2 separate regions of the Homo sapiens genome follow, and region 2 is linked to region 1. The links come from fine-mapping of genetic effects on gene expression. A gene starts in region 1. The other region holds a variant in brackets. All regions are shown on one strand. Distances are from middle to middle. Region 1 holds the start of PYCR3 (pyrroline-5-carboxylate reductase 3). Region 2 holds the start of MROH6 (maestro heat like repeat family member 6).

Evidence for each region.
Region 2: its variant is fine-mapped to the expression of PYCR3 in fibroblasts (GTEx, PIP above 0.99). The same link has a PIP of 0.9 or more in hippocampus, lung and nucleus accumbens.

The regions. Positions count from the first base shown.
Region 1 is chr8:143,607,455-143,612,646 of GRCh38, reverse strand. PYCR3 (pyrroline-5-carboxylate reductase 3) reads left to right here and starts at 3,072. Exons shown (of 6, transcript NM_023078.6): 1 at 3,072-3,189; 2 at 4,521-4,585. The coding sequence starts at 3,099. GFUS (GDP-L-fucose synthase) reads left to right here. Exons shown (of 11, transcript NM_003313.4): 11 at 1-29. RefSeq lists an enhancer at 1,465-1,964.
Region 2 is chr8:143,568,623-143,573,814 of GRCh38, reverse strand. MROH6 (maestro heat like repeat family member 6) reads left to right here and starts at 1,043. Exons shown (of 14, transcript NM_001100878.2): 1 at 1,043-1,394; 2 at 1,630-1,782; 3 at 1,994-2,148; 4 at 2,821-2,938; 5 at 3,158-3,342; 6 at 3,435-3,572; 7 at 3,750-3,864; 8 at 3,975-4,118; 9 at 4,201-4,374; 10 at 5,096-5,192. The coding sequence starts at 1,101. It also overlaps a transcript of NAPRT not described here. RefSeq lists an enhancer at 1,685-2,534. The variant C/T (reference allele first, on the strand shown) is at 2,588.

The DNA of each region.
Region 1 (5,192 bases):
GGGAGCCAATAAAGTGCATTTTCACAGGCCTGGCCTTGGCAGCTCTGTGCTGAGCCGTCCCCCACACCCAGGGACTGCCCCCTAGCCTGGCCAGTCCCAGGACCCACTATCCCCCTGGCTTACTGTTCAGCCCCCAAGAGCTGGTGACTCCCTGGGGTGGAAAGGCCGCAGAGGCTGGAGATGGGAAGGCACACGTGGGCAGGCAGCAGGCAGGCAGCAGTGAGACTGGTGTGGACTGTCAGCTGGACAAGGATGTGCAGGGCAGGGCCAGTCCCAGCCCCTCCACATGTGGCCACCTGCAGGCCTGAGTAACTTGAGCTCACCCGGACCTCCCTGCCTCAGCCTGAGGGCTCTGGGGAAGCTGGTCTAGTGGGCCAGAAACGTCTAGTGAGCCAGCCGAGCTGAGCCCATGGATGGATATGAGGGGAGGCTGATGATTGGGTGGCTCGGGCTTCCCCTGGCCTGGCCCCTCCTCTCTGTGGCTCTCAGGCTTGGGCGTGGGTCCCCCACCTGGCCTTATCCCATGGAGAGGGACAGGTGCCTGCTGGACAGGTCAGCTCCAGCCACCAGAGGTGGGGTGTCATTGCTCGCCGCCCCCGTCCATTCTCAGAGGGGAGACAGCAAAGTCCAGAATGGTTCCCGGGCCAGTGCCTCAGCCAGGCAGGGTGGCGCTGGGGTATGGACCAGGAGCACTGGGCTCCAGGCCCCGGCTTGCCCGTCGCCCCCTTTCTCAGTGCCTCTCACAGAGGGAGCCCCTATGCCAGAACCCTCTGGTCCACTGCATCCAGGACCCAGATGCCCTCCCTGGCTCCTGGCCCAACTCTGGGCCCACGTCCTCAGGGTCCCTCTCCTGGGCGCCCTGTGCCGTCTTCACGCACATGATGCCTTTTGGCTGCAGGTAGGACCTGCTGCTTCACTTCTTCGTTCATTCCGGCAGCGGTGATGTGTCCTCCCTGTCCCGGCACTGAGTCCAGACCGGTGTGTCCTGCACCCAGCCAACCGCTCACCTCATCTCTCACTGTCCCTTTGTGTCCAGCAAGCCGAGGTGTCCTCCAGGCCTCCCCTGAGACTGGCCCCCTCTTGGGTCAAGGCCTCCCTACCTTTTAGGCCTCAGCTGAGGTGGCCCAGCCTCCAAAACACCTTCCCTGATGGCACCTTCACAGCGCCTCTCGGAGCATCCACCCTGCCCTGCTGGGATTGTTTGTCTGGAAACCTCTGGGAGCCCCGCCTCAACCCCTAACCCTCCCGCTGACACCCCAGGACCTCGAGCTCCAGGAGACGGGTTGGCCTCGTTCACAGTGTATCCCCTGGCCCCAGCCCTTTGTGGATAAAGGCTCTGCCCATGTGGGGGTTCAGGAAAGGCCTCCTGGAGAGGGTGGCGCCTATGTGGCTGCTTGGATCCACCAGGTGAACAGTGGGAAGAAGCCCAGCCAAGAGCAGAGAGGTGCCCTGGACACAAGCCTTGGCTGGCTGGGTGTCCACGTCAGCTGAGGGCTCCCAGCTGATGCTCAGAAGCCCAGCCCGGCATGGGACGGAGAAGCTGAACGGGGCTGGGCCCCTGGGCCTCCTTTTACCCACTGTGGCCCTGGGCACTCAGCCAGCAATCCTCCTTCACCTCGCCTCAGTCCACTTGTTTATGATGAGCTTTGTCCTTATGTATGATGGCATGGCACTGGATGCCTCTGGCCCCTCTCACCTCCCCACAGCCTTGGTCCTGAGCCATCACTGGCCCAGGGGGCCTGGGAGAAAATCCAGGGAGTCTGTGGGAAGGGGCTGGGAGGATCCGAGGTGGCAGGAGATACAGCTGCTGACGCTGTGTGCTGGTGCAAAGTGTCCACCACCCACGTTTCTCGGCTGCAGTGGCCGAAGCAGCCTCCTGGTGGCTTTCTGTCCCTTTCCACCTCATTTGCTTCAGAGCCTTGACACACTGGCTGTCCTGCGTGTGTGCTGACTGTAGTCTGTCTACACTGCCACCAAGCAGGGCTGCAGGGTGGGGTCCAGCCTGTCCCATCTGCTGCCGTGGGGTGATCTTGCCCAGGCCCAGAGCAGGGCCCAGAGGCTGCAGCTGCACAGTGAATGTTGAATCAATGAGAGGATTTCATTACTGAAGAGCTTAGAAAATGTCAAAGGCTTGGGCCGGCACGGTGGCTCACGCCTGTAATCCCAGCACTTTGGGAGGCCGAGGCAGGTGGATCACGAGGTCAGGAGATTGAGACCATCCTGGCTAACAAGGTGAAACCCCATCTCTACTAAAAATACAAAAAAATAAGCCGGGCGTGGTGGCGGTCGCCTATAGTCCCAGCTACTTGGGAGGCTGAGGCAGGAGAATGGCGTGAACCCGGGAGACGGAGCTTGCAGCGAGCCCAGATGGCGCCACTGCACTCCAGCCTGGGCGACAGAGCGAGACTCCGTCTCAAAAAAAAGAAAAAAGAAAATGTCAAAGGCTTCAAAAGAAAATAACATATGTAACATGCAGCTTTAGATTGGATGATGAAAAAACCGCACTCAGATCTTCAAGCCTTGTTTTCCTTGTGTCATTAAAAGTGACGAGTACCCCCTCCCCGACTGTCCCCTCCGTCGGTCTCAGGCCCCTGGCCCTGGCCTGCTCTCCGTGACCTGGGTCTCCGCCCCTAGTGCTTCCCCGCAGCTCCACCGTCTGTGGTCGGCGGGGCCTCAGTGACCGCACGCTCTGGACCAGCCCCGCAACCCGCTTCGCTACCCCTCCCCTCCGGAAAACCAACATGTGCTCCTCGCACGCGCGACCGGGACCCCTCCCCGCTCCTCCGGCCTCTCCGAGCGCGAGTACCCCGCCGGCCCCGCCCCTTACGGCCCCGCCCCCAGTTTCTCTCAGCCAATGGGCAGTGAGGGGCGGCATAGCCCTTTCGGGCCAATAAGCAGCGAGAGGCGGGGTTCCCGCGCCTTGCGAACTTGTAGAGTGCGGACAAAAAGCCGGCCGGAGTGTGCCGTCCCAGTAACCAATCGGCGAGGGTGGGGACGGGGAGGCGAGTCCTATTGGAGGGCGGGGGTGGGGCCTAGATCTGTGGGCGGGGCGCGGCCTGTGGATGGGCGGTGAGCGCAGCGGCGTCCGAGGCAACAAGATGGCAGCTGCGGAGCCGTCTCCGCGGCGCGTGGGCTTCGTGGGCGCGGGCCGCATGGCGGGGGCCATCGCGCAGGGCCTCATCAGAGCAGGTGGGGCGGCGCGGGGCTAGGCCTGCGGTCTGGAGTGGGAGCAGCCCCGTGGGAGGTGTCCTGCCGCGAGAGTGGGGCCGGGGGCGCGGGCCCAGCCAACCGGGTCTCCGCTCCGCTGGGCGCAGCCGGGGCCACGCCTGTTTGCTCTTACTTTTTTGACGTGGCTGCGGGAAGATTTGAGTCACACGTGGCTAGGTGCCGCTTCCGTGGCCGGCTTCCTGGCCGCGTGGCCTTGGCCAGGCTCACCTCTTCCAGCCTCTGATTTTCTCTTTGCGCGCCAGCCCCTCTCATGGGGAGCAGCAGGGCTTCTCCCCCAGACACCTTGGCTCTAGGGACACCTGGGCCAGACTATCCATCCTGTGCCAGCAGCACCCCCACGTTGTGACAGCCAAAAATGCCTCCAGACACTGCCGAATGTCCCCTGGGTGGGGGGAGGAGACAGGCAAAATCATCCCCTGTTGAGAAACACTGCTTTATACCCGGAATATTTATGCTGACCATATACTCCTCCAGGCATTTAGAAGCCTCTCTGCAGATTGTGGATAGGGAGAGCTGGGTGACTTTTGACTCTCTGCCTTCAGCCATACTTCAGGGTCCAGAAGAGTCAAGATCAATCGGGAAATAGCTTACTATGAGTCTCAGGAGTCTTCCCTGTGAAACCTGGCAGTACCGCATGCCTCCCAGAGCTGTACAGGTTAAATGAGACATAAATGTCTAGTGTTGAGCTTAGTACTGGTGTGTTTGGCTGCCACTGTCATGATTAATTGCTGTGTTCAGGTTGTGGTGTACACTTGTGCCTTCCTGTTCGACCTTACCAAAATCTAACCCAATCTTTCCACCCCGTACCCGACAAAAGCAGATAATTTCTACCAAGTAGGCATTTAGCCTTTTCTTAGACATTCCAGCATAGACTCTCCCTCTCGAAGAACCTGGGCCCCGATTGGGCCTTCTGTGGCCAATCAACTGCCTTTGTACCCACCACATTCCCCCAAGGCCTGGTGTTCCTCCAGAGGTACTGCCTCTTCTGCTCCAGGCAGCCTTCCCTTCCCTGGAGGCAGAGGCCCCAGGGATCTGTGTCCTCACCAATGAGGTAAGCTCCTGGCCTCCATACCCAGCAGCAGTCAGGGGCGTTGACCGCCAAGTAGAATCAGTGGATCTGATTGCCTGGGCCCAGTGAATGGTGCATCCCGCTTTGGGTTCCTGGGGCCAGGAGGGGGCCCAGGATGGGCCAGGCGTGGCTGAGCCTGAGAGGCCAAGTGAGCTCCCTCTCCTCTCCGTGCCATCCTATCCCACCCCTTCACCAACCCCTCTTCCTTTTCCTTTCTTTCCAGGAAAAGTGGAAGCTCAGCACATACTGGCCAGTGCACCAACAGACAGGAACCTATGTCACTTTCAAGTGAGCATAGAGCCCAGGTTCTTCATACCCTCAGGAGCCCAGGATAGCTCTTGGCTCCTGTCCCACTAAGACACTTATCAGAGCCAGGGATGGGTGGTTTATTTAGCTGAAGTTTGCAGACTGGCTGGTCTGGGCTGGGAAAAGGGAGATTAGAGGCCAGGAGGAAAGTAAGGTTGTGGAGGGCCAAAGCAAAGTGTTTGTGTGTGTGTGTGTATGCATGTGTGAGTGCATGTCCGTGAGTGTGTGTATATGCACGTGTGTATATGTGAGGCTATGCGTGTGCATGTGTGTATGTATGTGCTCATGTGCGTTTGCACGTGCGCTTGTGTGTGCGTGTGCACGTGTGGTGAGTGCATGTATGTCAGTGCATGTGTGTGCGTGTGTGTATGAGTGCATGCTCATGAGTGCATGTGCACCTGTGTGGTCGTGAGTGCACGTATGTGCTTGTGCATGTGTGCCTGTGCAGATGTGTATATGAGTGCGTGTGTGCGTGTATGAGTGCGTGCGTGTACACATGAGTGCATGCTCGAGTGGGTGTGTGTGCATGTGTTTGTGCTCATGAGTGCATTCATGTGTACATGTGTATGTATGCTCGTGAGTGCATGTG
Region 2 (5,192 bases), 39 kb after region 1:
GCCCCGGGGAGTACGAGCTAGGAGAGAGATACAGACTCACACACATTGGACAGAACACACCACACCCCAGGCACCCCCAGGGCACCCGCGCACTCCGAGGGGCCCAGCCAGAGTGGCTGTATTCTTCCGTTCTTGCACTGCTGTAAAGAAATACCTGAGACTGGGTAATTTCTAAGGAAGAGAGGTTTAATTGGCCTGTGGTTCTGCAGGTACAGGAAGCATGGCTGGGGAGGCTTCAGGAAACTTACCATCTTGGTGGAAGCGGAAGCGGGCAGGTCTTACATGGCCGGAGGAAGGGGTGGGGCGGTGCCACGCACTTCCAGACAACCAGATCTTGAGAAGTCTTATCATGGGAACAGCACCAAAGGGGGAAGTTGCCCCCAGGATCCAATCACTTCCCACCAGGCCCCACCTCCAGCACTGGGGATTACGTTTCAACATGAGATTTGGCCAAGGACCCAGGACCCAGAGGGGCCTGCACAAGCTCTGGAGGGGCCACCGCTCCTCTGGTGTCTTCACTGCCCCCTCCACACCTCCGGGCTGCCCCAAGCTCACCCAGTCATGCCTGTTGCAAGGTGTCTGACAGAGCCAGCGTGCAGGGGGCGGAGCCAGCGTGCAGGGGGCGGGGCCAGCCCCTAGCCCCAGGCCCAGTGGGGAGCTGACTGCTGCTTGGGGGCTGAATCAGGCCTCGACTCAGGGTGGGGCCCAGACTCCTGGACCCTGCGAGGACCTCCTCAGAGCTGTCCACAACTGCCCTGAGCTCCCTGGTCAACAGGGGCTGGTAGTCAGGGTGGGGGCCCTTCTCCCCCTTTCTTCGTGGATCTGCCAGCTCTTGGGGATCCTGTTCTCAGGGCCCTGGTGGGTAGAGCCACACCACAGGCACTCAGGCTGCAGGTGGCCACTCCCCTCCAGCAGCCCAGGCAGGAGGGCCCCTCAAAGGCCCATTGTAGGCACGTCCGTGTGGCTCCCCAGCCCCCGCAAGCTCACGCTAGCGCACGCCACCACGCCCGTCCGTGGTCCCGCCCGGGGCGGCTTCTAGGTCAGTCCTGGGCACAACTTCGCAGGAGGAGCAGCGGCAGGTGCTGCAGGCAAGGGCCGCCATGGCTGGGGGTGTGTGGGGCCGGAGCCGGGCCCGGGAGGCTCCCGTGGGGGCTCTAACCCTGACAGCACTGACTGAAGGAATCCGGGCCAGGCAGGGGCAGCCCCAGGGACCCCCTTCCGCAGGCCCTCAGCCCAAGTCCTGGGAGGTCAAACCTGAGGCTGAGCCACAGACCCAGGCACTCACCGCCCCCTCTGAGGCAGAGCCTGGACGTGGGGCCACCGTCCCTGAAGCTGGCAGCGAGCCCTGCTCCCTCAACAGTGCCCTGGAACCAGCCCCTGAGGGGCCCCACCAGGTGACGGGGGAGGGAAGGGATGTTGTGCGAACCGGCCTGGGGGTCCTGTGGATGGTAGGTGGAAGGCGGGGTGGCAGGGGGGCGGTGCTGGCCCCGGGGGAGGTCAGCGTGAAACAGGCTGGTGAGCAACAGAGGAGCAAGGGATTTTGTAGGAAGCCAGGTGGGAGGCCGAGGGACCAGGAGGAGAGCTAGGAGAGGTTTGGGCACTTCAGACGCCCCACCCATCCTGCCCTAGGTTCCCCAGAGTTCCTGGGAGGAGGGAGTTCTTGCCGACCTCGCGTTGTACACGGCTGCCTGCCTGGAGGAGGCTGGCTTTGCAGGGACCCAGGCGACAGTGCTCACCCTGTCCTCAGCCCTGGAGGCCCGGGGCGAGCGGTTGGAGGACCAGGTCAGCCTTCACCCACTTCATGCCCTACAGAATCCTGCCGGTTCGGGCACCAAGGTGGTGGGAGGGGCCTGGAGAGCGCAGCCTGACCCTGCCATCTTCAGGCTGCTCCTGCCAGGCGGGATCAGGGTGGGGGTGGAGGTGGGGTGCAGGCCAGAGGGGAATGGACGGTGGAGGAGGCCTGACTGCTGAAGTCTGCCCCCTTCCCCACCAGGTGCATGCTCTGGTGCGTGGGCTGCTGGCGCAGGTGCCCAGCCTAGCGGAGGGGAGGCCCTGGAGGGCGGCCCTGCGAGTGCTGAGCGCACTGGCCCTGGAGCATGCGCGGGACGTGGTGTGTGCGCTGCTACCCCGCTCTCTGCCCGCCGATCGGTAACCCAACCGTCCTGGCCCTGCGGTCCCCACGCGGCTTCCTTCCCTCTTCCCGCTTGGCGGTGGAGTCTGGCCCCAGAAGAGGGAGCTGAAAAGGGGCAGGGCCTCCTTATTCCAGCCCCGCGATGACTCATGCCCCGTATCCATTCCCGCTCCCCTCATTTTTAGCTCCGCAAACTCCCCCCACACTCCTGCCACAGAGTTTCTGATGCTGGGCTCCTCTCTTGGAGCCACCTTCTATCTTCGGGTGGCCTCCCCTGGAGACCGTCCTGGGGTTGGCTCCGGAGTGGGGTGAATGAGGCTGGGGGGCTAACGTGCCTGGACACCCCTGGCTCTTTGGTTAATTGGCCCCAGAAGTTATCTTTGGTTTTATTCTCTGTGGCAATTTTTTTCTTTTTAATAATGCCAGGTTTGTTTCACTGTCGCTGACCCAACGGGA[C/T]TCCCAGTGGGTCCCCACCCTGCAGCTCAGCTTGAGATAGGCTATGTTGTGGTCTGCACAATTAACCCTTCATTTGTTTCTCTGAGATTTGGGGATGGGGGGAGATGGGAGGGGTTTCCTGCCCCTCCCCTGCTGGAGTCCTACTGGCTGCCTCCACCCTGGCTGGGGACTCCCTACATTCCCTGGACACCCACCCATCTCTTGTCTCACACCAGCCCCCTCCAAACCCTCAGGGTAGCAGCCGAGCTCTGGCGCAGCCTAAGCCGTAACCAGCGTGTAAATGGGCAGGTGCTGGTGCAACTGCTGTGGGCGCTGAAGGGTGCTTCGGGGCCGGAGCCCCAGGCACTGGCGGTAGGTGGCTCCAGCCATTACCAGGGGGTGGGGGCGGGGGTGGGGGGTGGCGAGGAGCGGGGAGGATGGGCATAGGGAGTTTGCACCTAGGTAACTGCTCCTGGAATGTCCCATGCGTGTCTGAGGCTGTCCCCATCCTGTTGACAGCACGCCTGTCCCTCTGCTGCCCAGTGCAGCTCCAGGCGTGCCCCAGGCCTGAGTGGGCCACTTGCTCCACAGGCCACACGTGCTCTTGGGGAGATGCTGGCTGTTTCGGGCTGCGTGGGAGCCACGAGGGGCTTCTACCCACATCTGCTGCTTGCGCTGGTCACACAGCTGCACAAGCTGGCCCGCAGCCCGTGCTCCCCCGACATGCCCAAGATTTGGGTTCTGTCCCACCGAGGGCCACCACATAGCCATGCCAGGTGAGAGGCAACACCAGGTTACGTGGGGCGGGCCAGCATGCTGTCACCCTCTCAGCTCCCACTGCCCACCTGCTCACTGTCCCCACCACCAGCTGTGCTGTGGAGGCCTTGAAGGCGCTGCTCACCGGGGATGGAGGCCGCATGGTGGTCACGTGCATGGAGCAGGCAGGAGGCTGGAGGAGGCTGGTGGGAGCCCACACCCACCTGGAGGGCGTCCTGCTGCTGGCCAGGTGAGGAGGGTGAGGAGGGGCCCCAGGGTGTCACACCAGGAAGAGAGTCGTTGCTGGCCAGGTGCTGGGCAGGGGGACAGGGAAAAGGCAGGGGCATGAGGGTGGTGTTGGGATGGGGTCTTCTCGAGGAGAAAGGCCGCCAAACGGAGCGAGAGCTCCCATTTCCACCCACCCCAGTGCTATGGTGGCACATGCCGACCACCACCTGCGAGGCCTCTTCGCAGACTTGCTCCCTCGGCTTCGCAGCGCGGACGACCCGCAGCGTCTCACGGCTATGGCCTTCTTCACAGGGGTGAGCCTGCTTCCCGGATGGGTGGTGAAGGGTGACCCTGGACTTGATCCCTGAATCGCAGCGGCCTGCACGGGGACCGCGGGCGTGCTGACCCCATGTGCCTCGCCTAGCTGTTGCAGAGCCGGCCCACCGCACGGCTCCTGCGGGAGGAGGTCATCCTGGAGCGACTCCTCACCTGGCAGGGAGACCCCGAACCCACTGTGCGCTGGTTGGGCCTGCTGGGCCTGGGCCACCTCGCGCTGAATCGCAGGAAGGTGTGAGAGAAGGGGAGGGGTGGAGAGGGGCTTGGCCCGGTCGCGGCGAGGTCTGCAAGAGGCTGACCCCGAGTCCCAGCAGGTGCGGCACGTGAGCACGCTGCTGCCGGCGCTCCTGGGCGCACTGGGCGAAGGCGACGCGCGGCTCGTGGGTGCAGCGCTGGGCGCCCTGAGGAGGCTCCTGCTGCGGCCCCGGGCGCCTGTGCGGCTCCTGAGCGCGGAGCTGGGACCGCGCCTCCCTCCGCTACTGGACGACGTGAGCAAACGCCCCGCCTCCGGGTCCCGCCCCTGCCGCTGTCACCGCCCCCGCCCTTCCAGTCTCTCCCTCCCAGGCCCCGCCCCCGTCTCTCCCGCCCAGGCCCCGCCCTCTCAGGCCCCGCCCCGCCCTTCCAGTCTCTCCCTCCCAGGCCCCGCCCCCAGTCTCCCTCCCAGGCCCCGCCCCGCCCCTCCTGTTTCTCCCTCTCATGCCCCGCCCCGCCCCTACAGTCTCTCCCTCCCAGGCCCCGCCTCCCAGGCCCCGCCCGCCCCTCTAGTTTCTCCTTCCCATGCCCCGCCCCCCAGTCTGTCAGTCTGTCCCTCCCAGGCCCTGACCTCCCAGGCTCCGCCCCGCCCCTCCAGTTTCTCCCTCCCAGGCCCCGTCCCCCCAGTGTCTCCGTCCCAGATTTCTTCCCTCCTGACCGCCCCCGCCCCTCCCGCCTGCTGTCGCCCAGCTCCGCCCCTCCAGGGCCGTGTCCCGCCAAGCTCCTCCCCGCTCGACTTTTCCTTCCGGACCCCATCCCTTCAAGCCCCACCCCCTGCAGGGGCTCTCCAGGCTTCCCAACCAGGTCCAGCTCCAGGCCCTGTTCCCTGTCCCCAGATCACACCGAGTCAGCAGCCTTCCCTAGACCCGCCGCTTCCTCGCTCCGCGCTGGCCGCCCCCTCCCACCCTTGCAGCCCCTCTCTGTCTCCGCCTGCCCTGACTGCGCCCTCCCACGCAGACACGGGACTCAATCCGCGCCTCGGCCGTCGGGCTCCTTGGGACTCTGGTGCGCCGGGGCCGGGGCGGGCTCCGGCTGGGGCTCCGCGGCCCCCTGC